Linked DNA regions of Homo sapiens. The protein of the gene in region 3 interacts with the protein of the main gene of each other region in a biochemical or structural test. Each region holds a gene or a part of one and is shown on either strand. Other genes may lie near its edges. The genes, in order: SORT1, PTPN12, NTRK1, PTPN22, PTPRO, PTPRC and TIE1.

Evidence for each region.
Region 1: the proteins of NTRK1 (region 3) and SORT1 form a complex in vitro, tested with the Homo sapiens proteins (one study listed by BioGRID and IntAct).
Region 2: of the proteins of NTRK1 (region 3) and PTPN12, one has a biochemical effect on the other in vitro, tested with the Homo sapiens proteins (one large-scale study listed by IntAct).
Region 4: of the proteins of NTRK1 (region 3) and PTPN22, one has a biochemical effect on the other in vitro, tested with the Homo sapiens proteins (one large-scale study listed by IntAct).
Region 5: of the proteins of NTRK1 (region 3) and PTPRO, one has a biochemical effect on the other in vitro, tested with the Homo sapiens proteins (one large-scale study listed by IntAct).
Region 6: of the proteins of NTRK1 (region 3) and PTPRC, one has a biochemical effect on the other in vitro, tested with the Homo sapiens proteins (one large-scale study listed by IntAct).
Region 7: the proteins of NTRK1 (region 3) and TIE1 interact in a biophysical measurement, tested with the Homo sapiens proteins (one large-scale study listed by IntAct).

The regions. Positions count from the first base shown.
Region 1 is NC_000001.11:109,387,457-109,391,567, forward strand, and holds part of SORT1 (sortilin isoform 1 preproprotein), read right to left. Parts: intron 1-4,111.
Region 2 is NC_000007.14:77,596,005-77,600,115, reverse strand, and holds part of PTPN12 (tyrosine-protein phosphatase non-receptor type 12), read right to left. Parts: intron 2,275-4,111; coding exon 2,215-2,274; intron 1-2,214. UniProt on the Homo sapiens protein: Dephosphorylates a range of proteins, and thereby regulates cellular signaling cascades. Dephosphorylates cellular tyrosine kinases, such as ERBB2 and PTK2B/PYK2, and thereby regulates signaling via ERBB2 and PTK2B/PYK2.
Region 3 is NC_000001.11:156,874,365-156,877,864, reverse strand, and holds part of NTRK1 (high affinity nerve growth factor receptor isoform 2 precursor), read right to left. Parts: intron 3,483-3,500; coding exon 3,465-3,482; intron 3,295-3,464; coding exon 3,239-3,294; intron 2,960-3,238; coding exon 2,857-2,959; intron 2,346-2,856; coding exon 2,199-2,345; intron 1,786-2,198; coding exon 1,655-1,785; intron 1,466-1,654; coding exon 1,293-1,465; intron 1-1,292. UniProt on the Homo sapiens protein: Receptor tyrosine kinase involved in the development and the maturation of the central and peripheral nervous systems through regulation of proliferation, differentiation and survival of sympathetic and nervous neurons.
Region 4 is NC_000001.11:113,861,382-113,865,492, reverse strand, and holds part of PTPN22 (tyrosine-protein phosphatase non-receptor type 22), read left to right. Parts: intron 1-1,215; exon of another isoform or gene 1,216-1,295; intron 1,296-4,111. UniProt on the Homo sapiens protein: Acts as a negative regulator of T-cell receptor (TCR) signaling by direct dephosphorylation of the Src family kinases LCK and FYN, ITAMs of the TCRz/CD3 complex, as well as ZAP70, VAV, VCP and other key signaling molecules.
Region 5 is NC_000012.12:15,503,572-15,507,682, reverse strand, and holds part of PTPRO (receptor-type tyrosine-protein phosphatase O isoform a precursor), read right to left. Parts: intron 3,776-4,111; coding exon 3,614-3,775; intron 1-3,613.
Region 6 is NC_000001.11:198,715,209-198,719,319, reverse strand, and holds part of PTPRC (receptor-type tyrosine-protein phosphatase C isoform 1 precursor), read right to left. Parts: intron 2,639-4,111; coding exon 2,480-2,638; intron 1,227-2,479; coding exon 1,018-1,226; intron 1-1,017. UniProt on the Homo sapiens protein: Protein tyrosine-protein phosphatase required for T-cell activation through the antigen receptor. Acts as a positive regulator of T-cell coactivation upon binding to DPP4.
Region 7 is NC_000001.11:43,299,305-43,303,960, forward strand, and holds the start of TIE1 (tyrosine-protein kinase receptor Tie-1 isoform 1 precursor), read left to right. Parts: upstream 1-1,677; 5' UTR 1,678-1,767; coding exon 1,768-1,825; intron 1,826-4,656. UniProt on the Homo sapiens protein: Transmembrane tyrosine-protein kinase that may modulate TEK/TIE2 activity and contribute to the regulation of angiogenesis.

The DNA.
Region 1 (4,111 bases), about 47 Mb from region 3:
CACTCCAGTCTGGGTGACACAGTAAAGACCATGTCTCTTAAATTTTTAAATTTTGTTTAAAATTTAAAATTTTGTTTTAAAACAAAACAAAAACTATTTAACCATATATGCTTGAAGCTATTATAACCAGATGACCAGGTATCTGATTACTGTTTTCTGATTATTAATCTGATTATTTTCTTCTCTATCTCCCATAGCTTCAAGAAAGGCATTTTGGGCTGGGCGCGGTGGCTCACGCCTGCAATCCCAACACTTTGGGGCCGAGGTGGGTGGATCACGAGGTCAGGAGTTTAAGACCAGCCTGGCCAAGATGGTGAAACCCCATCTCTACTAAAAATACAAAAATTAGCCGGGTGTGGTGGCGGGCACCTGTAATCCCAGCTACTTGGGGGGCTGAGGCAGAGAACTGCTTGAGCCCCAGAGGCGGAGGTTGCAGTGAGCCGAGATAGTGCCACTGCACTCCAGCCTGGGCAACAGAGCGAGACCCTGTCTCAAAAAAAAAAGAAAAAGAAAGAAAGGCATTTTGAATAGATGATCTCTGCCTAAACCTATCTCCCACCCTCCTCTTTTTTCATCCTGAGTCCAGTGATACAAGTAGTACATTTTTTTTTCCTTTTAGATATGGGACCTCACTATGTTGCCCAGGCTGGCGTACAGTGGTTATTCACAGATGCGATCACAGTGTCCTATAGCTTTGAACTCCTGGGCTCAAGCTATCCTCCTGCCTCAGCCTTCCAAATAGCTGGAACTCTAGATGTGCACCACTACCTACCCCTAATAAATTTTTTTGTATTTTTGGAAGACAGTATCTCGCTCTGTTGCCCAGACTGGAATGCAGCGGCGCAATCATAGCTCACGACAGCCTCAAAACTCCTGGGCTCAAGTGATCCCCTCACCTCAGACTCTTGTGTGGCTAGGGCTACCGGCATATGCTACCATACCAGGCTAATTAAAAAAATTTTTTTATACAGATGGGGTCTCACTATGTTGCCCAGGCTGGTTTCAAACTCATGGGCTCAAGTGATTCTCTTGCCTCAGACTCCAAAAATCTTGGGATTATAGGTGTGAGTCACCCTGCTTAGCCAGGGCTAATATGTCTTAATCCAGATGCAGTTCTTGTGAGTACCTATAATAATTCTCTAGAAATATTAGAGATATGAAAAAAATTAAGCACATGTACAAATATTTAAGCATCTAACTGGTAATGTGTCAGAAGCTTTGTAATGAAAATCATTACAAGAAATCCTCAACAAAAGAATATACACTAAATCCTGTACTATCTTCACAATGACCCTAAGAGGTAGTATTAGTACTCCCATTTCATAGATGAAAAATCTAAGGTTCAGAGAGGTTAATTTGTCCATGGTCACCACTGAAGTTTGAATCCAGATCTAATACCTGAGATCCTGTTCCCCCAAACTACTGCCTCAAACCATCATCAATTATATTAACAAAAGTTTGACATAATCACAAAGGCTTAAAAAAAGAAGAAAACCACTACATACACGTCTTACATTTCTGCCAATCTTGACTCACTTTAATTCTTGCCACCCCCACCCAAGCCTGTCATCCAACTCTGCCAAGTGATAAACCAAACGCATTTATGCCTCATCCGTCTGCTTTAATACACATGCTCCTCAGGGTTTGGCTCAAGGGCTGTATCTATCAGGATCACCTGGCTGACAAGCAGGCCCTGTGGGGGCTGTGACACATCAGCAGGTTTATTAAGGAATTATACAAATCATACTCATACGGTACTTCAAGGTTTCAAAATATTTTCACATATATCTTCCCTTCAAAACTTCATGATAATCCTCCATTTTATGTGACGGGAAACTGAGGCCTAGAAAGGCTAGTTGAGCTCTGTTGAGGGTACTATGACCTTGAGAAAAAGAGTAGAATTCACAACTATATTACTTATAACTGGGATCTCATAACTTTGCCTTATCCCTAAAGCAAATGCATTGATTTCAACACTCCTATGAAACACTTCCAAATGCAGCACCATGTTGGGACATCTGTGTTCTACTCCCAGCTCTTGGCCAGTAAGCAAGTCAGCCAGCCGCATCAGCAAAAGGGCTCTGACCAGCTAATCGGCCCAATAATCCATGATTCAAACCATTAAGCACATTATCAGCAAGAGTTCAACCTTATCCTTGTTCACAAATGTTCAGAAAAATCTGTTCATAGGCATCACTGTCTTACAGCTCCTGGCTTCCTCATGCCTTGGCTCACATTCTTCTTCAACCAGGTCCAGAAGTTTAGGAGTGCTTTTTGGAAACGTTAGCACTTCAAGTATAAAGGATGGTCTGCCTCACCTTCTGTTCTGCTTTCCTCTGGGACCTTCACATCCAAGACCAAAGCAATGGCCGGCCTCTGAAAGGGGAACTCTTCTTGGCTCCCCATTTCTACCTCTGGTTCCTCCAGCTCTAGCCTCATGTCTAGCACTATCTGTTAAAACTCTCTCTTTCACAAGTAAGTCCTTTTGCCAAACTCACTACCCACGCCCCTCCTCTCTTTCCATCCCCCACAAAAGAGCTATCTTTTTTTTAACTTCCCTATATGTTTTCCTGGAAACCTTAGTCATACTCCCCATCAACTACCTCACCCTAAAATAAAGTTTCTGTTGACCATCCCTTGAACATATCTTGGATTTTCCTACTTCCTTCGTGCCGTTACAGATCTCCCTAAAAATCACCTCCACTTTGATTCTCTCTTCAGCCAGAGGGCTTTCCCAGAACACTGCACTGCAGTGGTCAAGCCTTCTTCCAAACTCCCAGTGAAACATCTCTGAACACCTAAATCCTTAAGATAGCCCCAGTGCTTTGCTTTGTTTATGCACAGGTCTGGACTCCACTCAGTACATGGCAGGCAGCTCAGTAAGTGTCTAAATGAATGACATCTATATAGTACTTTACCTTTAACAAAACACGTTGATAAAACTTCTCATTTGACCCTCCAAACAATCCTAAGAGCTGCTGCTCTAGTTTAAAAAACAACTGTAAAGACCACTGAAGTTAAGTGATTTTCCATAATCACACAGCTATGAAGCAGCAGAGCCAGGACCCAAATCTGGGTATTGAGACATCTCTTTGAGATTTTGTATACAACATATTTATGTTTTGAATCCTTTGTGACAAATAGCAAATACTAGATAAAAATGATTTGAACTAACTTGTCTGGGAATTATTGAAGTTAATACAAATTTTCCTTCCCAGTTCAATTTCTCCTGGTCCTTCAGAGCAATTGTACTGTGGAACCAGACTTGCAAACTGGCTTCAGTACAATATTAGAAAGTGTGTGTGTGTGTGTGTATGTGTGTGTGTGTGTGTGTGTGTGTGTGCGCGCGCGCGTTTTAGGACATACAGGAAGACTAAAATGCTTATCCAAAGCAAACATAAGACGGATAGTATTCATAAGCCAGAGAAGGAACATACATACGTTTTCTTCTGATAAAAATAAATCAAGCCAATTAATCACATATAAGTTTCTACATGTGAATATATTTATGGTAAGCTGACCATCTATTTTCAAACACACAGGCAGCCAGGATGAAGAAAAAAAGCCCCAGTTTTGGCAGAGTACTATAGGAAAGGGAAAAAGAAAAATGAATTTACTGCTATCTGTTGGGTTTGCTTTTGGACTATTCAAGCTAGTAGCTTTTATTAGCATTAGATTTTTCAGCCAACAAGGAACAAACGGTAAAATATTACCCCCAAAATAAAAGAGAAAAATGTCTTTCATAACTACATGAAAAAAAGTACTCCTGCTATCTTTAAGAACATGCATATTTCACTGAAGCAAGTTCTGGAGGTGGTAGTAAAACACCCCTAAATGTGAAATCCATGCTATGTTCAAGTTTGACTGGGAAGTCAAACAGCCACAGTTTGCTTCTAAATTTGGAATCAGCCAGGAAAACATTTGTGATCACAACCTCTGGCCTCTCCCATATGAATCATAGAATTTTTGAAAGAAATTTTAAAGCTAGTCCAAAACTTCTTGTGCTGTAGATGAGGAATCGAGGGCCAGAGACTAAAACACAAAACAGAAAATAAGTTACATTCACAGAAAACTTCCTCGGCAAAACACGACAGGTTCTGAGTGGAAGGAT
Region 2 (4,111 bases), on a different chromosome or scaffold from region 3:
GGTCTGGGTACCCCCTCCCCTCAACCCTTTTGAGGGAGTCTATGAGCTTTAAATAATTCTCAGAATAATACTAAAATGTTACGTGCCTTATTCTTTAACAGCCAATACAATATATGCTTATGTATTCATGTTTTTTAAAAATTTCTCAGTTTTAATTTCAAATATAGTATATACTGAAAGATACAACCCCCAGAAACAAAAACTTTGGGATCCTCAATAACTTTGAAGAATGTAAAGGAGTACTGATGTCAAATGTTTTGAGAATGGTTATTGCAGGTGTTTAACAGAAAGAGCAATACTCGGAATCTAAGCAAACCATACTCAAATTCCTACTTTGGCCATTTCCTAAATAACTTCAGGTAAGCTATTTAACTTCTTAAAGCTTCTGTATCTTCATCTATGTGCAACAGACGTAACAGTATCTGGATATGATGCAGTTAGCAGAATTAAGATGCCTGATCTACCACAGAAATTCATTAAGGTACTTATTATTATTACCGTAGATTAAAAAATTAGCAACCAGTCCAGATTCAGTGGCTCACATCTGTAATCCCAACACTTTGGGTGGCCAATGCAAAAGGCAAGATCACTCAAGGCCAGGAATTTGACAGCAGCCTGAGCAACATGGCAAGACTTCATCTCTATAAACTATAAAAAATTTAGCTGGGTTTGGTGGCTCATCCCTATAGTCTCAGATACTAGGAAGGTGGAGATGGGAGGACTGCTTGAGCTCAGGAGTTTGAGTCCAGCCTGGGCAATATATAGTGAGACCCTGTTGCCAAAAAAAAAAAAAAAAAAGTCGGGGCGCTGTGGGGGGTTTCAACTAAAAACAATATATATCTAAATGAAGACTTAGCTTTGATAGTGACTTTTCTTTAACAAATTGTAAACCAGTAAAACAGGGTAATAATTATATAAACAATGCAATAACCTGCTTACTGCAATAGAATAAAAATATTTGCTGCAAAGAAGGTATAACTATTCCAAATTTAACAAATTTAGGGTATGTTATAATTAATATTACTTTTTATGTAATGTGATAAGCATAAATGTCAAGACTAAATATTACACTCTCATTTCATCTTCGTAACTAAAAAATTACCAAATTTCATTAATTATGTTAAATAACATAGTATACTATTTATATAGCTTGTTTTATTTTTTTAGTAGCTAAAAGTTGATTAGTTTGCAAAGACAAAAACTAACTTCACATGCTTTAAAAATAAAAATTGCTGTTACTTTTTTTACTTACAAAAAACTATAAAGCAGATATAAAGCAAAATAATAATATATATTATATATATTATTTGCATTTTGCAGATATAAAGCAAAATAATTTTCTAGCAAACCCATTTTACCAAATAAAACATTTAGGTAGTAGTATTATATTTTCTATTTTTAAAACATTTATTTTATTTTTTATTTTATTTTTTGAGACAGAGTCTTGCTCTGTTGCCCAGGCTAGAGTGCAGTGGCACCATCTCGGCTTATTGCAACCTCTGTCTCCCAGGCTCAAGCAATTCAAGTGCCTCAGCCTCCTGAGTAGCTGGGATTATAGGTGTGCACCACCATGCCCAGCTAATTTTAGTATTTTTTAGTAGAGATGGGGCTTCGCCGTGTTGGCCAGGCTGGTCTTGAACTCCTGGCCTCAAGTGACCAACCCACCTCAGCCACCCAAAGTGTTGGGGATTACAGGAGTGAGCCACCATACCTGGCCTCAACTTTTATTTTGGATTAAGGGGTACATGTGCAGCTTACATGGGTGTATTGTATAATGCTGAGGTCTGGAATACAAATGATCCTTACCAAAGGAGTGAGCATACTACCCAATAGGTGGTTTTTCAGCCCACGCTCCCCTCCCTCTCTATGTCTTCTCTTTGAAAACTATTCTCTATTCTCAAAACCATTTTTGAGAGTCTCCCTCTGTTGCCCAGGCTGGAGTGCAGTGGCACAATCATGGCTCACTGCAGCCTCAACCTCCCGGGCTCAGCCTTCTGAGTGAGTGGGACTATGGGCACATGCCACCATGCCCGGCTAACTTTTTTCTTTTTGTAGACACAAGATCTCACTATGTTGCCCAGGCTAGTCTTGAACCCCTGGACTCAAGTCACCCTCCCACTTCAGCCTCCCAAAGTGTTGGGATTACAGGCATGAGCCACTGCACCCAGCCTGAAAACTATTCTTACAGATAGTCTATAAATGGTAAGTACCTACATTTTGAAATTCAAGTAAGAGTGTCCTGATGAAGTAGTCTGTTCTTGCTTGTTCATCCTCCTAAATAAAGAGAAACATTTCTAAGTCAGTGAAAACGTTAAAACAAAAAGACACATCAAAACAAATAAAATACTTGTATCAAAGTCCACAATATAAAATTAATCTTTAAAATTCCAGATGTACCTGATAATTATAAAAAAATTCTAAAAGTCATCAAACATTTGAAATGTTTGAAGTGATAGACATGCTAATTATCCTGATTTAGTCACTCCACATTTTAAATTACACATACATGTACCAAAATCACATGTACCCCATTAATAAGTATAGATACTATGTGTCAATTAAAAATAATAAAAGGAAAAAAAGAGCTAGTAAGCCATGAAAAGACATGGATGAACCCTAAATGCACATTACTAAGTGAAATAAGCCAATCTGAAAAGGCTACATACTGTATGATTCAAACTATATGACTTCTGAGCTGGGAGCAGTGGCTCATGCCTGTAATTCCAGCACTTCAGGAGGCTGAGGCAGGTGGATCACTTGAGGTCAGGAGTTCGAGACCAGCCTGGCCAACATGGTAAAACCCCATCTCTACGAAAATACAAAACTTAGCTGTGTGTGGTGGCGCGCACCTGTAATCCCAGCTACTCAGGAGGTTGAGGCAGTAGAATTGCTTGAACCCAGGAGGCAGAGGTTATAGTGAGCTGAGATAGTGCCACCGCACTCCAGCCTGGGCGACAGAGCAAGACTCCGTCTCAAAACAAACAAACAAACAAACAAAAACAAACTATATGACTTCTGAAAAAGGCAAAACTATGGAGACAGTAAAAATAATGACTACCTAGGGTTGGGAAGGGGGTGAGATGAATGAATAGGTGGAGCACAGGACTTTTAGAGCAATGACACTATTCTGTATGATACCACAATGGTGGATACACGTCATCATATATTTCTTCAAACCCACAGAATGTATAGCACCAAGAATGAACCCTAATGTAAAATGTGAACTCTTGGTGATAATGACTTGTCAATGTAGGTTTGTGAATTGTAACAAAGAGACTGCTCTGGTAGGGAATGTTGATAATGAGGGCTACATGTGTGGGGACAGGGTGTATATAAGAAATCTCTGTACCTTCCTCTCAATTTTGCTGTAAACCTAAAACTGCTCTAAAAAAAATAGTCTTGAAAAAGTTAGGCAGTGGCTCACACCTGTAATGCCAGTAGTTTGAGAGGCTGAGGTGGACGGATCGCTTTAGCCTAGGGGTTCAAGACCAGCCTGAACAATATAGCAGAACCCTGTCTCTACAAAAAAATACAAAAACTAGCTGGACATTGAGGCGTAAGCCTGTGCTCTCAGCTACTTGGGAGGCTGAGGTAGGTGGATCACTAAGCCCAGCAGTGAGGCCAAGGCTATATAGTGAGCTGCGATCACGTCGCTGCATTCCAGTCTGGGTGACACAGTGAGACCCTGTCTCAAAACAAAAAACACTAAAAAAAAAATTTTTTTAAAAACCTTAAAATGAAGTCTCCTATCAGATAAAGTCTCCTAACAGATAGACCCAAACAATATGTACAAATAAGAGAAGTGAATTTGGGAATCAAGTTACCTACTAAACTAAGAAACTTGAAGAAAAAAAATTCATTAAAAAAATTTGTATAGACAGTAAAGAAAAAAACATCAATTTGCTTTTGTAAGTTTTACTTATACCTAAAAAAAAGTGTCTAAACGAATTACTTAAGCATCTACCACCCAATAAAATATCTGCAAAGTAGTAACCACCCCCAGAATCATGTAAATATACATAGAATGTCATTCCTCAGTACCAACCACCATATCCTATCTTCAACCATTTTACCTTTCCATAACACATGATTTTCCCTAACATTCAAGTTT
Region 3 (3,500 bases):
CTGGTCCACAGGATAAGCCCAAGACTCAGGGGTCTCTCCTAGCTGAGTCCTGCAGCCTGACTGCATGAATGACCCATCACTCCCAAAGGGATGTTTGGGGACCAGATCATGACCATCAACTGGACAACCATACAGCGCTTGCTCATCCAGAACCACAGCCCCCACACTGTCCCTCTTACTGGTGAGGAAAGTGAGGTCAGAGAGGAAAGCTACTTGGCAAAGAAGGCTCAGCTCATAAGTGGCAGCTGATTCCAAACCCTGCTCTTCTCCCTGCCTTGCAAACACTGCCCCATCCTCCCGGGGGTGATCTCATCAGAGAAGGACTAGACCGAGGGAACATGTGACCATCACATCAGGGGCTGAGAGTAGGGGCTCTGCCTGGGGCCACATCACCCCTGGGCCATTCACTACCTGTGTGCCCTTGGGCAAGTCACTGAACCTCTCTAAGCCTTATCTGTGAAACAGGCACATTTCTCGAAGTTATTAAAATTATCAGCACAAATAGATAAATGTATCAGAGTTGTTCTGTCCGAAGCCAAAGAAATGAATTTTTTGTAACTTGCTTCAAGTGTAAATTGCAATATATGCTTGGAGGCCATAAAAAATAAATACATATTTATATTACTATACAAGATATATATGTACCAGCACATAGAACCATAATAAGAACAAATTGTAGAGCCAGGTGCAATGGTGTGCACCTGTAGTCCCAGCTACTGGGGAGGCTAAGGCGGGAGAATTGCTTGAGCCCAGGAATTTGAGGCTGCAGTGAGCTATTATTGCAACACCGTTGCACTCCAGCCTAGGCAACAGAGCAAGACCCCAACTCTAAAACAATAACAGTAATAAATACATGTTAAAAAATAAAAAATAATAAATTATAAAGTATATAACATAGCACCTGGAACATAGAAGGTGCCTGATAAATGTTCATTACTGTCGTTGTTACTGTCGTTATCTAAACTGCTACCCTTACAGGCCTGGCCTTTGTGTGCCACACACAAATGCACATACACCCTCTGCAAAGCCCACCCACCCCAAAGTTTTAGCTCACGGCCTTTGCCATCGCAACCTCCCTGACTACTGACACTTGTCCTTTGCAAGAGTCACCCCTATGTTCACACATCTGCCTCCTCTACCATCTCAGAGCTCCCTGGGGACGGGAATGTGCCTTCCTGATCTTTCTTGGTGTCTCCCCTTGGTTTGAAAGACAAGCAGGGATGTCTATAGGGAAGGGAAGACGGGGCCCAGAGCCAGGGGCCGGGGCCAGCGCTGAGGCCAGGTGCTGGTACCGGAGGAAGCGGTTGAGGTCCCCGTGCCGCATATACTCAAAGACCATGAGCAGGGGGCGGCCCTCGGTGCAGACGCCGAAGAAGCGCACGATGTGCTGGTGCTGCAGCATGGTGAGCAGCTCAGCCTCACGCTGGAAGTCCTGCCGAGCACTCTCGGACGCCTCCTTCAGTGCCTGGATGGAAGCGGCAGGGACAGGACTGAGTTGGGGGCCGAGCCCTCACTGCTGTTCACCCAGGGCAGCCCGCCCACCCCGGTATCCAGCCATGTCAGCCCTCTGCATCTCCCCCCACTCTGTCCTGATGTGATGGAGCTCCTGGGGGTGGGACCCAGGCCAGCAGTACCCCCCGGGGCAGGGTCTCACCTTGACAGCCACCAGCATCTTGTCCTGCTCAGGCAGGAGGTTGTGGCACTCAGCAAGGAAGACCTTCCCAAAGGCGCCCTCCCCCAGCTCCCACTTGAGCACGATGTCCCGGCGCTTGATGTGGTGAACACCTGAGGGGGCTTGCAGGGTCAGACGGTAGCCCCAGTCTTGGGAGGGCTGGGGTTGTAGCGGGGACTGTCTTGGCAGGGCTGTGTGCTGCACAAGGCTGCCCAGACGAGGGACTGCATGGGGGCTAAAATTCAACCTGCACCCCTTCAGCAAGCCCCATGTCATAGTGTGGGGCTGCACCTGCCCCGAGAGGACATGGTTTGGGCTAGCTGTGACTCTGGGCAGGGGATGCAGCTAAGAGCCAGGCTGGACTCAGCCTGAGAAGAATATGACAGGGCCTATGGCTGGAATAGGGCTGGGGAGGGGTGGGAGAAAGGGAGGGATCGTTCAGGCCTAGGGGCTTCTACACACACACACACACACACACACACACACACACACTCGTCCCTGCCCTTGACCCAGCATAGCCCCTCACAGGCATCACTGAAGTATTGTGGGTTCTCGATGATGTGGCCTTGGAGCCCAGAGCCTTTGCCCTCGGTGGGGGACAGGGAGCTGCCACCCAATGTCATGAAATGCAGGGACATGGCCAGCCCATCCTCTGGAGCCAGCACAGCCGGGCCTAGAGAGGAGACACAGCCGCATGGAGGGGTTTGCCCACACCTTGGCCCTGCCCACCCTTGCCTGCAGGATGCCTGGTCACCCCCACCTTGTAACTTGCAGGGGAGAGACTGAGAAGCTAGGGAGCGAGACAGCAGGCAGGGGGAAGGGGGCACCACCGCCTCTCCCTGTGCTGGCTCCTGTCCCACCCCTGGCCCCATGGGCACCAAAGAACTCCCCCTCCACCCCCACAGAGCCCAGACCTCCCAGACCCACTTAATGCTTGACTACAATCCAGCCACCAATTAGCAGCTGCCGCCTCTGAAACTACCCCAGCACCAGCCCGACACACGCTCCCACACACACTCACACTCACAAGCCTCACAGCCAGGCCTTCATTTATACCCCAAACACACTCACACGCCCTGGAACTCCCATGTGCACAGCCCCCCAGAGACAGAGTCAGGAAGAGCCAGTAGGAAACAAAGCCAGGAGAACAGACAGACAGACAGCCCTCTGCAGCCCCGACTCACGGTTGATCCCAAACTTGTTTCTCCGTCCACATTTGTTGAGCACAAGGAGCAGCGTAGAAAGGAAGAGGCAGGCAAAGACGGCCAGGCCCACAGCCACCGAGACCTGGTGGGGGACAGGGGTAGTTAGATCCAGGGGCTCCTCCTGTACTCTCAGAGCCTCCTGTAGTAAGCCATTTTTTCATCCTGCATGGGAGCCCGGAGCCAGGTCTCCAGACCTGCCTCATCCTCCCCTGGGGACCCCTGCAGTGGCTGTGCGGGTGGCCGTCAGAGCTCAGGCCAGATGGTAGTGATCTCCCTGCTCTGACCAGAAATGACATGCAGATGAGCCTCTACCCAGCCTCCCGGTCCCAAAGTCTGCACAAGCTTCTACTTCCTATCTCACCCCAAAAGGTGTTTCGTCCTTCTTCTCCACCGGGTCTCCAGATGTGCTGTTAGTGTCTGTAGGGACACAGGGCAGGAGGGGTGAGCCTTGACACACACTGTAGCCTCCAGTAACCCCCCAACCCTGGCCCCAGCTGGTCTCTCAGGGATCAGTTCAGCTGTACCCTCTGCCCCAGCCTCAGCTCCAGAGACCAGGCAGAACCTGCCCTCCACCTTGGGCTACTCACCCACCGGCGAGAAGGAGACTGCAGCAGGAGGGAGGA
Region 4 (4,111 bases), about 43 Mb from region 3:
AGTGCTTTGCCGTACGTGATCTCGTTTAATCGTTACAACTACCCCAAGAGGAAAATATTATGTTCATTTTTACCCATGAAATGGAAAAGCCCGGATTTGAAACCAGTCTGTTTTTTTTCAAAGCCTCTTAACCTCTGTACTTAAACTGTATCAGGTAAAAATCATGACTTTTTTTCTGATATAACTAGCATAAAATAGTACTTTATTATGTTAATTTCATTCATTGGATTTCTGAGCCTTAAAATGTTCCATGATTATTTTAAATCTGCATTTCCTTATATACGTTTTCTGTTCATCTACTTTCCACAGTAACAACAGCTAATCCATAGAACTGTGTTCCAGACTCTGTGCTAAAAGTGCTTCACAAATAGAACTTCATTTACCTCCCAAAGAACCTTTTAAAATGGCTATCAATGTCCTACATGGTGTCTCTCCAGCTTCTTATAGCATGCTCATTTTCTTGTCCTTGCCATGCTTCCTCTGCCATAGGGCCTTGCACACATGTTGTTACCTCCGCCTTGAACATTCCTCACACTCCTCTTTACCTAGATAACATTTGGTAATTTTTTTTTTTTTTTTTTGAGACGGAGTCTCGCTCTGTCACCCAGGCTGGAGTGCAGTGGCACGATCTCTGCTCACTGCAACCTCTGCCTCCTGGGTTCAAGTTATTCTCCTGCCTCAGCCTCCTGAATAGCTGGGACTACAGGTGTGTGTCACCATGCCCGGCTAATTTTTTGTGTTTTTAGTAGAGACAAGGTTTCACTGTGTTAGCCAGGATGGTCTCTCGATCTCCCGACCTCGTGATCTGCCCACCTTGGCCTCCCAAAGTGATTATAGGCGTGAGCCACCATGCCTGGCCTTTTTTTTTTTTTTTTTTTGAGACAGGGCCTCACTTGGTCATCTAGGCTGGAGTGCAGTAGTGTGATCATGGCTTACTGCAGCCTCAACCTCTAGGGTTCCCATCTCAGCCTCCCAAAGTGTTGAGATTACAGGTGTGAGCCACCATGCCCGACTAATAATTCTTTAGATCTCAATTTGGTGGTCAATTCTTCAAAGAAAGCTTTCTTTTCTTTTCTTCTTTTCTTTCTTTTTTTTTTTTTCTGGAGACAGGGTCTTGCTCTGTCACCCAGGCTGGAGTGCCGTGGCTTGATCATAGCTCACTGCAGACTTGACTTCCTGGACTCAAGTGATCCTCCAGCCTCAGCCTCCCAAAGTGCTGAGATTACAACCATGAGCCACCACACCTGGCCAGAGAAAGCTTTCTGGACCTCTTTGAATAGATCAAATCTTCTATTGTAAGTTCTTATTAGCACCATTTGTTATTTTTCATAGCACTTACCACAATTTCAGTTTTTTGTTTGTTTGTTTGTTTGTCTGTTTTGAGATGGAGTTTTGCTCTTTTTGCCCAGACCAGAGTGCAATGGTGCGATCTTGGCTCACCGCAAGTGACTCTCCTATCTCAGCCTCCCGAGTAGCTGGGATTGCAGGCAAAGTTGCAGTGAGCCGAGATCGCGCCACTGCACTCTAGCCTGGATGACAGAGTGAGATCCCATGTCAAAAAAAAATATATATATATATATATATATTTATTAAATATAAAGGATTCATTGAATCCTAACAGAAAGAAGATACCTAGTTCTGAAGGCCAGGTTTAGGTGCTAACAGTTTAAACTATACTAGAAATCAGACTGGTACTATTGCAACTTCTGGAGATTCATTAGAAGACCAGAGACATATCAAAGATCTGGCTACATCTTGGTTCTATAAAGGAGACATAGATACATCCTGGTTCTGTGTATATTATAGTAATGATACTAACCAAACAGTTATCAACAAGGTACTTCCTACAGAGCAAGTGCACAAACATCTATGAATTGACACTACTCATTCCTGTGAATCAGCCTATCACTTGAACATATTTATCAGCATTTCTTGACCTTTGTGCACATTAAGGTGCAATTTTTAAAAATGCCACCACCAGAATAAATGTATCACATCACCTCTGAAGCTGATTTCTCTAACACCATCTCCAGCCTCTCACTAGGGACCATCTAGTCCTACATTTTCATTTACTCACAGGACACTTAAAACACATTTCTTGGCTGAGCGCAGCGGCTCACGCCTGTAATCCCCACACTTTGGGAGGCTGAGGCAGGCGGATCACTTGAGGTCAAGAGTTCAAGACCAGCCTGGCCAACGTGGTAAAACCCTGTCTCTAATAAAAATACAAAAGTTAGCTGGGCATGGTGGCAGGTGCCTGTAATCCCAGCTACTCAGGAGGCTGAGGTGGGAGGATCACTTGAACCTGGGAGGCAGAGGTTGCAGTGAGCCAAGATTGCGCCACTGAACTCTCTGCTGGGTGACAAGGCAAGATTCTGTCTCAAAAACCAACCAACCAACCAACAACACACACATTTCTTGCCATTTTCTCACATTTTATGTATCTAAAGTTGAACCTCTTGGTTTACTCACCCCAATTTAGCTATTGCCTACCCACCTACCCATTTGCCCCACTATTGCACTGGAAACTAACCTCGATAAGTTTGTCAGTCTTGTTGAAGATGATTGCATTGCACGCTCGTACAATTCAGTCTTGTCCTCCATTCCTACTGGTAGTTCTCCTGATTACTGGATTTAGAAGCCTGAGCTCCTAATGCCATTCCTTACCACTTGTACTTCTTCTGTCCTGATGGAGGCTTGGTATAATACTGACCTATATTTGCAAGGCACTGAGGAACTACCTTGCAGAGTTCTCGAGACAGCCAAACTTTGTGTTCTCCCACCTAGCACAGGAGGGCCAAGTTTAATTTTCCTCTCCCTAAAATGTATCTAAAATGCTACGTCTTCTATCCAGTAATGTAGTCCTTCAAGGCAAAGATATCGTGGTCTTGTGCTTTCTTTTACTTTCTGTTCTTTTTTGGGAGTGACTTTATTTTATTTACTAGTCTGTGAGAATAACATGCAAATGACTCAATCCGAATTTCTAGAATCTAATACTCCTTGTTATACTGGCCAGGATCCCCATTCTCCTCTCCTTTCTTGAAACGAAAGGGGTAGTATCATCTACAAACCAAATGAACTTACTATTAGCTTATCAAGCACACACAGAATCTGGTTTCTCACACATTCCACCCTATTTCAGGGCCCACGAGGGATGTTGAGCTCTCTCTTCACTTTATTCTCTTTTTTATTTTTATTTTTATTTTTTTTGAGGCGGAGTCTCACACTGTCACCCAGGCTGGAGTGCAGTGGTGTGATCTCAGCTTACTGCAATCTCTGCCTTCCAGGTTCAAGCGATTCTCCTTGCCTTAGCCTCCTGAATAGCTGGGATTACAGGGGTCTGCCACCATGCCCAGCTAATTTTTTTTGTATTTTTGGTAGAGACGGGGTTTCACTATGCTGGCCAGGCTGGTCTCGAACTCCTGACCTAGTGATCTGCCTGCCTCGGCATCCCAAAGTGCTGGGATTACAGGTGTGAGCCACCGCACCCAGTCTCTTCACTTTATCCTCTTGGCAACTATTCCCCTGACTTCTCTTGATGGTACTTCCTCTAGGGAACTCACACCCCTACCTTGTAGTTGGCAAAGAAATACCTTCACCCTTTAGATCTCATATCTTTTCTTCACAAACTTAAACCCATCCCCATGACCCTGCTTCCTCTTTTATACCCTTTTGCTTTCTACTTTCAGGGTTCCTCCTTTTCTGGTGTAGTTTATTACTTTTTCTGCCCTAATTTTGCCCTAATTTGTTCTTTCTTGGGATATTGGAGCCCGGGAGTCTGGCAGGAAGAGAGGTGGAAGAGAAAAATGAAGCCTGCCGGGCGCGGTGGCTCATGCCTATAATCCCAGCACTTTGGGAGGCCGAGGTGGGGGGATCACTTGAGGTCAGGAGTTCAAGACCAGCCTGGCCAACATGGCGAAACCCTGTCTCTACTAAAAATACAAAAAAAAATTGGCCGGGCGCGGTGGCTCACGACTGTAATCCCACCACTTCGGGAGGCCAAGGCGGGCAGATCACGAGGTCAGGAGTTCCAGACCATCCTGGCCAACATGGTGAAACCCCGTCTCTACCAAAAATACAAAAAATTGGCCAGGCATGGTGGCGGGCGCCT
Region 5 (4,111 bases), on a different chromosome or scaffold from region 3:
TAGTAAAGAGATATGGAACCCATTACATATTTATAGGTTTGTTCCTGGCAGGTCAGTGACACCACAGACACAAGGATGCTACCGTAGTTCTCTTGGGAAGATGTCTAGGACATCACAGTAGTGGTTGAGCTTAAAACACGGATGCTCACATATAAACTGCTTTTCAGCATGTAAACTGTTTTTTAGCATATAACCTTCTTTAAGTTTTTATGTGTTACGTATTTCATTCCTTATTTATTTATTTATTTATTTATTTATTTATTTATTTATTTTGAGATGGAGTCTCACTCTGTCACCCAGGCTGGAGTGCAGCCTTATCTAGGCTCACTGCAACCTCCACCTCCTGAGTTCAAGCGATTCTCCTGCCTCAGCCTCCCGAGTAGCTGGGATTACAGGTGCCCACCACTATGCCTGGCTAATATTCGTACTTTTAGTAGAGAGAAGATTTCACCATGTTGGCCAGGCTAGTCTTGAACTCCTGACCTCAGGTGATCCGCCCGCCTTGGCCTCCCTAAGTGCTGGGGTTATAGGTGTGAGCCACCGTGCCTGGCCCCTTTAACTTTTATAACAAGCCAATGAAATAAGTACTTTTATTAAATCTCACTTTTCAGATGTGAAAACTGAGGTAGAGATAGAGTAAGTAGAGCTAGGATTCACACACAGGAAGTCTGATTCCAAAATCCATGCTCTCAACCCTGCATGAGACTTCCTGGAGCACTATGAAATAGTAAAAATTTGGAGATACGATAATTGCACTAAGACTCAGTTTGGTCATTATTAGTGGTGCAACTTTGGACAAATGAGTTAACCTCTCTGAATCTCAGTCATTGCATCTGTGAAATGGATAAATCATGGAATTTTAGAATTGAAGAGAACTTTAGAGACCCACTGCTTTATTTTGCTGATATGGTTTGGCTCTGTGTCCCCACTCAAATATCATCTCGAATTGTAATCCCCACTTGTCGAGGGAGGGACCTGATGGGAGGTAATTGGATCATGGAGGTGGTTTCCCCTATGCTGTTCTCAAGACAATGAGCGAGTTCTCATGAGATCTAATGGTTTAAAAGTGGCAGTTTCCCCTGCTCTCTCTCTCTGTCCTGCCACCCTCTGAATAAGGTGCTTGCTTCCCCTTCGTCTTCTGCCATGATTGTAAGTTTCCTGAGACCTCCCTGGCCATGCAGAACTGTGAGTCGATTAAACCTCTTTCCTTTGTAAATTACTCAGTCTCAAGTAGTTCTTTATAGTAGTGTAAATATGGACTAACACATTTGCTGATGAGGAAACTGAGGCCCAGAGATATAAACAAGCTGCCTGAAGTCATAGAGCTAGTAAGTGCTTGTGACCTAACCCAGACCTCCTGTCTCTTGAGTCATTGCTTTTGAAAATCTGATTAATTTACCTCATAAGGTTGTTGTTGGGATCAAATGAGATAATATGTGTTAGAGAACTACATAAACGTGAAGTGTTACTACTGTTCTGAAGAGTACTAGTGTAGTGGGGGCACAGAGGGTGGAGGTTGGAGTAAGCAAAACAAATTCAATTATTTAATAGTTTTACCTTATGACTGACTTGATAATCAACCCAAGGACATGGGTCATGGCAGGCTAAATGAAAATGGGTTTTGTTATCAAATATTCCTGAGTTATAATCTTAATTTTGACACTTGGGGAAGTCACTGAAATTTCTGCGATTCAGTATGTATTTTAATGTGAAAAATGGGGGTAATAAAAGTGTTTTCTTCATAAGGCTATTGGCAGTCTAGTGCAAATTCCTACCTGAATTCTCATCTCTGGGAAGGCATTCAAAGCTACATAAATGTAAATTATAATGCAACGACATAAACATATAATAAATTGTAATGTAACAGCTCAACACCAGAATATGTGAAACAGTTTGGTCAGGAAAAACAGGCTGCAAATATACTTTTGCTGGTGTGTGACTACATTATGCTGAGCAAACGTAAGCCACCCTAATTTTTGCTCATTTACCCAGTTAGGTGTAAGTATTTATGTCTGCGGTATCCATTTTTTAAACCAAAGAAGTATACATGGTACATCTGAATAGCTCATTACCACAGAACAGAATCTCCTTAAAAAGTCATTCTTTTAGCAACAGAGAAAAAACAAAACTTCTAGGAGCCTATATTTTTCTAGATAAATATTAAGATGCATCTCTTTAAAGTAATTGCATTTTTGAGCAATTCCGACATATTCTCAATGGCACTAGTCGCTTTAGATACTCTAAGAATAGAGCAGAGTGCATGAAAGATATAAGTGGTTCCATAAATATTTCTTGAATGTACAAAAGAATGAATAAATATGCAAACAGTATAACTCCAGCCTGGGATTTTACAACTTGACATGAGAAGCAAGATGTACATAAAATAAATCTAGAAAAATACCACACACTAATAAGTTATGTGTTTTGTGCTGTCTACTATGAGACAGAATAGGAATTCAGAGAAGAGAAAAGTCAGAAAGACCAGAATTGTTGTGGAGTTTTCGTGGAGGCTGTTCACATGTGCGGTGGATCTGTACTGGTGCAGAAAGAAACTATTTGGTAAGTGAGGCATTTTTAGTCTTATGGGAAGAATGAAATACTCGACTTTGTCCTCTTTCTTAAGTAATCACATGTCCAAGGTCTCTCACACTTGAAAGACACACAAGGCAGTTGGGAATACCCTTTCTACGCATCTGATAAATCTTTAAGGCCTTTCTTTTGCCAGAGGTGACATTTTTGGTTTTTCTTTTAAGTAAAAATATTATATGGGATATTTTCAACATTTTTAAGCTGCTACATAAGCTGAGCTCCTCTTCTGCTCTCATCCGTCCTTCAACGAAAGGTGGTATTTGCCTTTCCAGATGGCAATAGGATATGTGGTGGTTATCCTTTTCTGAAAGCAATTTTTATTCTTTGCCTTCTGGTTTTTCTTTCTACTGATCGGAGGCACATATAACTCCTGATAGGGTAGGTTACTGATTTTTGACCTCTATACTTCCAGTAAACATAGTCAGTTTAGCTAAACACGTTATAGAGGCAGGCACTGTTTGTGCAACCTTCAGAGGCTAGCTTTTGCTGTCCTGTTACCCTTATGGAATGGTAGAGGCCACCCTAGGACTTGACACTGGGACTTTCAGGTTGCTCTAGCTATGACTTTTCCCACCAGTTTTATTGAGACCATCGGGGTGTACCCACACTTGAATCTTTGTCTTTCTTTTGAGCCTCACAAGCTCAATACTCTAATGAGATTTTTCACAGTCCTATAATATCATTTCGTTATGGGCTCAAACAAATGTCGTATTTCCCAAACTGTATGTCCACATCCTTGGAGGCTTTGTTATGGCTAATGTGAAAGGTCAGTTTAATAAATGTTCAATTATCACAATAGTAAAAAAAAAATCCTCAAGTTAAACCCCTGGATAGGATTGCTACTATTAAACAAGCATTCATTTCCTCTGCTATCCAAAGCTTGTGGATCTCAGCCTCTCCTGATCTTGAAGACTTCTCATCATCCCTAAGGTTTGTGAATAATTGACATCTGAGCATCATTAATCCCACCAGTTCCATTGTTCTAGCTCCCCAGTAAGTGTAAAATGATCTCTTTGTTACTTACTGATATAAAAGCTGAGTGATTTTGCTGACTGACTTTTTCGAGTTTCACAAGATCCTGAGGAACTAAAGGTTGTCACAGATAACTTATATTTCCCAGGTTCCTTCAGTTCTGCAACAAATTCATGTGCTTCTTCATCCACCATCAAATATTCAGTAAAGTTCTCTAAATCATATATAAAAAAGAGAAGATACATGAATAGACACCTGGAAAGGCCCTGGGTATAGACAAGTCGATTAATGAAAAAAAATTAGGTGTTTTAAATGTTCCCTCCTTTTGTCAAGTTCAATTACACCTCTAAACTAAAGGTACCATTAAAGAATAATAAATAAGAGTTCAGTATTTTTACAGTCTTCCAAATAACAAAACTCAAATACGGCATTCAAATCAATAAAACTAGGGATGGGTCTACACTGTGTATCTTTATGTACTCCTACCCAACAAAATTATGTGTACAAAATAGAAGTAGATAATCAGGAAAAGTTAACAATTGTTGGCTTT
Region 6 (4,111 bases), about 42 Mb from region 3:
ACAAAGAACAATAAGTAAAGAAACTTCATTAAAAGAAAGATATCAATACCATATTTCAACCACCAAATAAAGAAAAAGAAAGGCGTATTCAGTGTTGGTGAGCCTCTCAAGAAGCAGTCATTTCATACACTGATACACCAGGGCAATTTGGTAAATTTTATAGAAAAAAAAAGTTACATATCCAAAAAGCCTCAAAATACATTTTGACCCAATAAATGCATTTTTAGGAATTTATGAAACATAAATTATTAAAGACATTCAAAAATTTTGCTTTACCAATAAGTGTGTTATCGGAATGTTGTTTATATTAGAGACCAACATAGTTATAGTTAATAGAATGTGATAAAGCCATACATAGAATATTATACAGGCATTAAAAACTACATAGTAGTTAAATATTTAACATAGAAAGGTGTGTGTGATATAGTGATATATTAAAAATACAGTTTTAAAACTGTATTTTGAAAACTGTGTACTCAGAATGTTGATAATACGTGTTAAGTGCATATAAATGTGTATATTATGAAGTTACATGTACAAAATACGATCAGTAGACAGTGAGATAATGAGTGTTTTAAATTCTGTATGCTCACTAGTATTGTCTAGTGTTTATTTCAAATATTTCCTAACCTCAAGGTACCTGTGAAATTTTGCAATTGAAAAATTCCACATTAATAAAGATAAAAAGCCAAAGTAAAGAAAAGGTAGATTTGGTAAAGTAATAATCTGTTGTGCATAAAGTGTTGTGCTTCTTAACACAGAAGCAATAATTTAGCTATAATTAAGTCATATTGAAGTTCTAAAATATTCCAATGAAACATTTGCTTTAAACCACTGACTTGAGCTATAGGAATAAAAATTTTAGAGTCAAATATTTGAGACTCTTTAAGTGTGATTCCATTACACATCAGAGCTTCTCAATCTCATGTGAGCAGTGGTCTTAAAGTTATTTAAGTACTATGAATCAATCATTATAATGTAGTTGGTACTATAGTAATGTAGAGAGCATACTTTTACCTTAAAAGTGTAGTCTGTTGAATATTGAAGATCTTTTACACGGAAATCGCAATTCTTATGCGACTCATTTCTAACCAGAGTATTTCCAGCTTCAACTTCCAAATGGTAACGTTCATGGGGGCCATTACGGTCCCTGGGAGGCCTACACTTGACATGCATACTATTATCTGATGTCATGGAGACAGTCATGTTCCAGACCTGGCTTGGAGCTATCAAAATGAAGAAAGATTTGTTATTAATAATTTAATAGATGCATATGTAAATTACTTGACAATACTTGGATATAGTATAAAGTATTTTAAGTGTTAGCTTGGGGGTTATAAATAAGGAAGTTATGATAGTACATAAATTAAAAAACAATATCAAAACCCTGAAGAATAAATCACTCATTTATTCAGTAAGTATTAGCATATAGGTTGTACATGAAGCCATGAGAGTTATTGCAATCCCTGAAGGAGACTGTGTAGAATTAGAGAATAGAGAAAAAGGGAAGGGAGTGGGGAAGAGGGGGAAGTTTGGGGAGAGGAGAGGAAAAATGTTGTTGATTGGGAAACCTCCAAGTCCTATTACACAATCTAGACCCTTCTTTCCCGGAGTGCTAATGTTATCCTGGTAAACACCTAGATGGGTTCTTCAGGAACAGAAACAAATTGTCTTCTTTTTCTGTGATACAGAAACTCAGGAAAACAACAAAAGCATAGAGCTCCAGGACCAGAACTTTTCAAACCAAAACCTAAATGACCTTAAAAGTGTCTTATATTCAGCCCCAAATAGCACAATATTTCTTCACAAGTCTAGTGCCCGTTAGGGTCTCTGGAGCTATAGATGCTGCCTTAAAACACGGCATTTCTTCTTCCCTGTCCTCGATGGAGGTTAACATGTGCCCCAGAAGCAGATCTAACTTTGGGCCTGGAAACTATGGAGAGATTATACTAGTGGCAAGAGCCAAATGCCATTGAAAGGAAACCTTAAATGGATAATGTGACATAAAATAGAATAGTAAGTAGTTGAGGGTAACGAAGAGAAGAAAATGCTAATAAAATATTACATTTTATGAAATGTTTTATCAGATGAACAGAGGTTAGTAGGCTAATGCTTTATGAGACATTGTTAGGTTTCTGATTACAATTAATATTTCCAGATAGTAAAGACAACAGCAAACAGTGAATGTTTTAATCTAAGTTGGTTAAGTACTTAACTGCATGAAATTGCACAAACTGATGCCAATTAAGATGCTTTTATGCTTTGTCCTTAAAATTCTATGACTATATCTGAAGAAGAGAGAGAATCCAGGATAACGGTTTTTAAACTTTTAGATTTTACGTGTTTATAAGCCCTAGATGTTAACAAATGTGCCAGGTAAATGTGCTTGCTAGAATAAAGATAGAAATATTGTAGGCTAAAAAGTTCATACCTTGCTTTTTACCATTTATGGAAAGAAGCATTAAAACATATAACTTACGAGCACTTTTAGTTGTGAAATGACACATTGCAGCACTTCCATTACGTTGCACTTTTGCAATGATGTAGGCATGTAATGATAAAACATATTTCGTATAAGGTTTTAAATTTTGCAAATCATATTTGATCAGGTTTTTATCCAGATTGAGGCAATCTTTTTCTGAGGAAAAATGTGAAAAAAAATTAGTAAGTCGTTAAAAGTCAGTACTACCACGTACCTAATTAATTTGGTCTCTACATCACATTGTTCCAAGTGAACTCCAAACTATTGAGTGATTGAAAAATAAGTACATCCTTGATACTCAAAAGTACCTACAATTATCAGCCAGTGTATTGAACAAACTCAATTATCATTGGTAAAATTAAATATTGAAAAATTATGGTTTTATATCATTAATTTGGTACATAAAATATTTAATAAGTTCAGATTCATTTGTGAAGACGATCTCTTTTGTTTCTGAGAAAACACAGCCCCCAGTGTATACTGTAAGTCTTGAGTTGCATGTTTCAGAATGATTCTTTTTTAGAAAACCTTTTCTGATATGTAACCTCCAAACTTTGAACATCGGTATTAGCTACTGTTTTGAATGTTAGATGCAGAATCCATTTGATCATCAGTCATTGGGTTGATTCTATCATAGTAATTTGGACACTACAGTAATTAACGGGAGCTGTGAGAATGAGGGAGTTTCATGCCGGAAGTGGAATTCAGCTGTTCATTGAAAGGTAAGTGGAACTGAATACATGTAAGGGAGAAAAGAAAATATTACAAACGGAAGAAGGAATGTTTTTGAGTTTAGTGACAAACCTGATCAGGACAACAGCTCTGGCTGGGGAGGCATATGAGAGGTAGGACAGTGTCTAAGTGTGTTTTCACACTCAGGCAGAAGACTTAGCACTTGTTAAGTAAAAAAATCACCAGCTGCTGCTATTTTTGAGTAGCCAAGTGACATCAGGAAAGAGGATGATTAGAGTGGCAACATGTTTCTGGATAGCAGCAACAGTAATAATAATATCAATAACGATTTTTAAAAATAATAACTCACTGTATGTGCCAAGCACTGTTTCAAGGGGTATACATGAAATAATTAATTTAACCATCACTGCAACTATTAGTTGGTACTCACTATCATCTGATTTTACAGATGACAAAACTGAGCCACAGAGAGATTAAGCAATTTGTTCTGTTTTTTTTTTCTTAAAAAAATAAAAGGCATTACACAAAATAATTTCCAGCAACATCATGGTGGTCTTGAAAGGTGCCTATTGCTTTCAGTAACTTTTGAAAAATAATCCTTTAAATCCAATAAAGCACAAAAGATCTCTTCCCCAATTCCCCAATTACCAAGAAGCTTCACTGTCACTTGCCATCATTAAGTTAACGAGATAAAACTGCAGTTCTCCAAAATATCTTAAGCTAAAAATGTGAGGAAAAATAAACAAACACACTTTGGGAGGCCGAGGCGGGCGGATCGGATCACACGAGATCAGGAGATCCAGACTATCCTGGCTAACACAGTGAAACCCCGTCTCTACTAAAAATACAAAAAAATTAGCCGGGCGTGGTGGCGGGCGCCTGTAGTCCCAGCTACTAGGGAGGCTGAGGCGGGAGAATGGCGTGAACCTGGGAGGC
Region 7 (4,656 bases), about 110 Mb from region 3:
CACATTTGCAAAATGACATCAGGCCCCCCAGGTCTTCCAAGAACCAAAGGAAAAGTTCCACAAAAGTGAATCCTGCCATACAAACAGTCCCAGCACTTTCCAGCTCCTTTTTCATTCCAGATTCAAAGGTCTGGCACCAGGATGAGCTGAAGTGTAAGGCATCCACCACTCTCCCCCTGCTCCTACTCCCATCCCACCCAAAGCCTTGTCTAGAGAAAGCTCCTCCCAGCCTCAGGCCCAGGAATGGGAATCTCTGTGGGTCACACATCAGTAGGGAGGTCTTTCCCGATCCTTTTCTATGCTACTCCAGGAGTCAAAGCGTCTCCTGGGACTTTTCAGGGCGCTTCAGAAGAGCCCTGGGCCTAAACCAGCTCAACCAAGCTGCAGGGACCCAGCCTCCTGAGAAAAGTGAATGTGAGCCCGGTGCATTCAGAGGAGAATGAAGCCTTCACCCAGAACACACTCTGGGAAGATGTCCCAGGCCCAGGGGGAGGGTTTGTACTACCAGACCTAAGTCACCTAAACTGACACCAAGTCTCATCCATCCCAACCATTCCATTCCGGGTCAGAGGGGTCATCGATTTAACCAGCAAGGCTGCCCATCCAACGGTTGCTCCCTCTGCTCCCTGGAAGGGCCTCCTCGTGGGCGTTCTGTACCTACAGGTCTTGTTCCGTTCTGGGAACTGCCAGTGGTGGCAAGAGGTGGAGCAACGGGTGCCAGGGCAGGGAGAGGTGAGTCTGGGAGGGAAGCAGAGGCAAGATCCATGGGGCTTTAGAGACTTTGCCAAAGCAGTGCGACTGCTCCCAGGTTGTTGTCAGCCGTCAAGAGTGAGTGCACCTCCCTGGGCAGACTTCTGCTGCCCCAGTGCCCAGGAATAGGCAGGGGTTTGCCGCAAAATGAATGACACCTGGCAGACAATAAGCTGAAGCTTTCATTAGCAGCTTAAGCTGAGGACTATCTATGCAACCGATACTCCCTGTGTGCTCCCCGGGACTGCTTAATGTGAGCCCTTGTGGAGCGATTGGCACCAAGAAAGCAAGGACTAAGTCAGAAGTTCAAGTCCCAGCCTTGCCACAGCCTCAGGGTGCCCTCGAGCACAGCAAGCCTCAGTTTTCCCATCTGTACAATGAGAGAGGTACACAAGGTAGACTCGAAGGCTCTTTGTTGCCAGGGCCCTGTGTTCCTTTGAGTGTATGTGCTTCTCAGGCCCACAGAGGTCCTTTGTGTTTCGTATGTGAACTGCTCTCTAGGAAACCCATGTAACTGTCTGTGTCCTGGGGCACATACATGAGGACTCATGTGGGCCGTATTGTGTGTTTGTGCCGGGGGGAGGGGAGACCCCAGAACAATGTCCCCCACCCCACCCCCCTCCTCAATAGGCGGAAGCCACTGGCTTCCTCCCTTTCCTGCCTCCTGCCTCCTTTGTGCCAGCAAGACTGAGTACTGGAGAGAGACAGGGGATGGGAAAAATCAGTCCAGCTGTCCCCAGGTCTGCCCTTACCATAACCTTCCCCCCACCTCAAGTGACTCCTCCCAGGCCACACCCATCCCCAGCCTTGTGGGGGCCAGATTGGGGGGCCTAGAGGCTCAAAGGCAGAATGAGTCCTCCCACCCCCTACCCTGCCACCCCTCCCACCCAAGCCACCTCATTTCCTCTTCCTCCCCAGCACCGACCCACACTGACCAACACAGGCTGAGCAGTCAGGCCCACAGCATCTGACCCCAGGCCCAGCTCGTCCTGGCTGGCCTGGGTCGGCCTCTGGAGTATGGTCTGGCGGGTGCCCCCTTTCTTGCTCCCCATCCTCTTCTTGGCTTCTCATGTGGGTAAGTCTCCCCTGAGTCCCTCACCCCATTTCTAGGCCCCGAGGCCCTGATTTCTACCCAAGAAACCCTATTTTATCATAGAGACAGAAAGTAGGATGATGGTTGCCATGGGCTGCAGGGAGGAAGAAATGGGGAGTTTTGTTTAAAAGGTACAGCGTTTTTACAAGATTTTTACTTGGTTTTACAAGATTAAAAGAGTTATAAACATGGGGCCGGGTGCGGTGGTTCATACCTGTAATCCCAGCACTTTGGATGGCTGAGATGGGAGGATCAATTGAGGCCAGGAGTTCAAGACCAGACTGGTCAACATAGTGAGACCCCGTCTCCATTGTGTTTAGACTTTCGTCTTTTTCAAAAAAAAAAAAAAAGGATGGATGGTGGTGATGGTGGGACAACACTAGGAATGTATTTAATCACATTGGGTTATATGCTGCTTACAAATGGTTAAGATGGCAAAATTTGCCGGGTGTGGTGGCTCACGCCTGTAATCCCGGCACTTTGGGAGGCCGAGCGGGTGGATCACAGGGTCAGGAGATCGAGACCAGCCTGGCAAACATGGTGAAACCCCATCTCTACTAAAAATACAAAAATTAGCCGGGCGTGGTGGCAGGAGCCTGTAATCCCAGCTACTTGGGAGGCTGAGGCAAGAGAATCGCTTGAATCTGGGAGGCAGAGGTTGCAGTGAGCTGAGATCGCGCCACTGCACTCCAGCCTGGGCGACAGAGCAAGACTCATCTAAAAAGAAAAAAAGATGGTAAAATTTATTTTATATGCATTTCACCACAACAAAAAATTTTGGAAAACAAGCCCTATCATCACTGCCATCACTTTGATCCACTAGAAAGTGAGATCAAGGCCAGGAAAACACAGGCAAGTGCTAGAAATCACTGCAACCTGGGATCAGGGGAGGAGTGAGGAGTAGCCGCTGACTGTGTTGGATCTGAGGATCTGTGGAGGGCCATTTTCAGGGGGTGTTCATAGGGTAATTGTGTTGGATTCACTCAGTTGTTCACTGGACAAACATTTATTGAGCACCAACAATATTCCAGGAGTTGTGCTAAGTGCTGGGCCATTAGTTGAGAGGCTGGCAACACCTAGTCTGTACAATGAGATTAAATGATGCCAGCCTCCTATGGTTGTTATGGGGTTTAAATGAGAAAATGATGCAGAGCAGTTGGCACAGTGCACTGTGCTTGGTAAGGATTTCTGAGTAGGTGGCAGCTGATTCCTTCAGTCTGCTGGTCAGCCGATTAGAACACAGAGGCTGCCTTTGAGTGGTTCATGGTCTAGTGCAGAACACAGGACAGGGGAAGAGGGCTAAACAGGGACAGACACAGGAGCTCTAGAGGAGCACTGAGGAGGAGTTCAGCTTACACTGCCTCAGGTAGGAGACAAAAAGGGAATCAAGGAAGATTTCACTAAGAGGGGTGGTCTTCATTCCAGGCAGCCAGAACATAAAAAATGCAAGTCTCAGAGGCATGGAGGTGCATGGGAGAGAAGGTGCCTGTTAGGAACACAACAGGAGGGATAGCGTGGGAGCATCACGGGGCTTAGGAGCACGAACATTATCCTGAGGGCAATAGGGAGCCATGGGAGGTCACAGGCAAGAAAGTCACAAGGTCAGGTTTGGTCTTAGATCACCGTGGAGGATGAGTTGCAGAAGGAGGGGCTGTGGCTGTTGGGATGGTCTAGGTGAGTAAGGATGAGGGCTGAACAAAGGCAGGCTGGGGGGGTGGGGATGAAGTCAAGAAGCGTTCAGGAAACAATGTGCAGAATTCTATGACTGATGAGGCAGGCAGCACAGTGCTCAGAGATGTGGACTTTAGAATCAGACAACCTGGCCCTGCCACTCACTAATTGTATGACCTTGGGCAAGTTACTTAACTTCTCTGAGCCTCCCTTTCCTGGCTATAAAACAGGGATAATAACATCCACCTCCCAGGATAGCTGGGATGGTAAAATGAAACAATATCAGTAAAGTGCCTGGTGCATAACTGGCAGCCAATAAACATTCATTATTATGACAATGGGAGTAGAGATGACTCCATAGTTTGTGTCTCAAGTGGCGGGTGCTGTCCAGTGAGTCAGGGAGCACTGGAGAGGAGCAGATTTGGGAAAAGCTGATGGAAATGCAGGTCCAAGCTGAAAGACCGTTCCCGAGTTACTGACTCAGAGGTGATGGTTAAAACTGGGGGAGTGGGCGAGCTTGCTCAAAGAAGCCAGTAGAATAATTACCATGATCCTCCTCTGTAACTGGAAAGAATATCCACTTCACTGGTTGTGAGGATCCAGTGGAAAATGGGGGTTGGTATGTGGTGGGCGGTCAGTAAATGCCAGCTTCGTTTGCTCATGGTAGCCTTTCAAACACTGATAAGCTAGGTGGCATTTAAACTAATGAACTGCTTGACAGTCAGCTACAAGAGACAGAGAAGGAAGGGCTTGGCTGGTGGAGGGGTTCTGGGTCCTGGAGCTAAGGCAGGCTCGCAGGCTCTCCACCGTCCAGACTGGACTCTGACTCCACCTGATCTCTCCTGCCTCAGCCTCACATTTTGTACTCCAGTCACACAAACCTGGAGAGCCCCCTCCACCTGCCACAATATTGCCACTGCAGGCCTCTGTCCAGGCTGTTCCCTCTGTCTAGGATGCCCTCTCCCTGCCCCTGATTTCTCTCCCTCCCCATTGTCCTCACGCCAATGTGCCCTGCTCCAACTGTACCTCCCAGGAAGCATCTCTTCATCTCCCTGAGCTCCCCCAGGCTGGAGCAGGGGTCCCTTCTCTGTGCTCAAAAGCACAGCGCCCTACATTTGGCAGCTGTGTTCATGCCTGTTCCT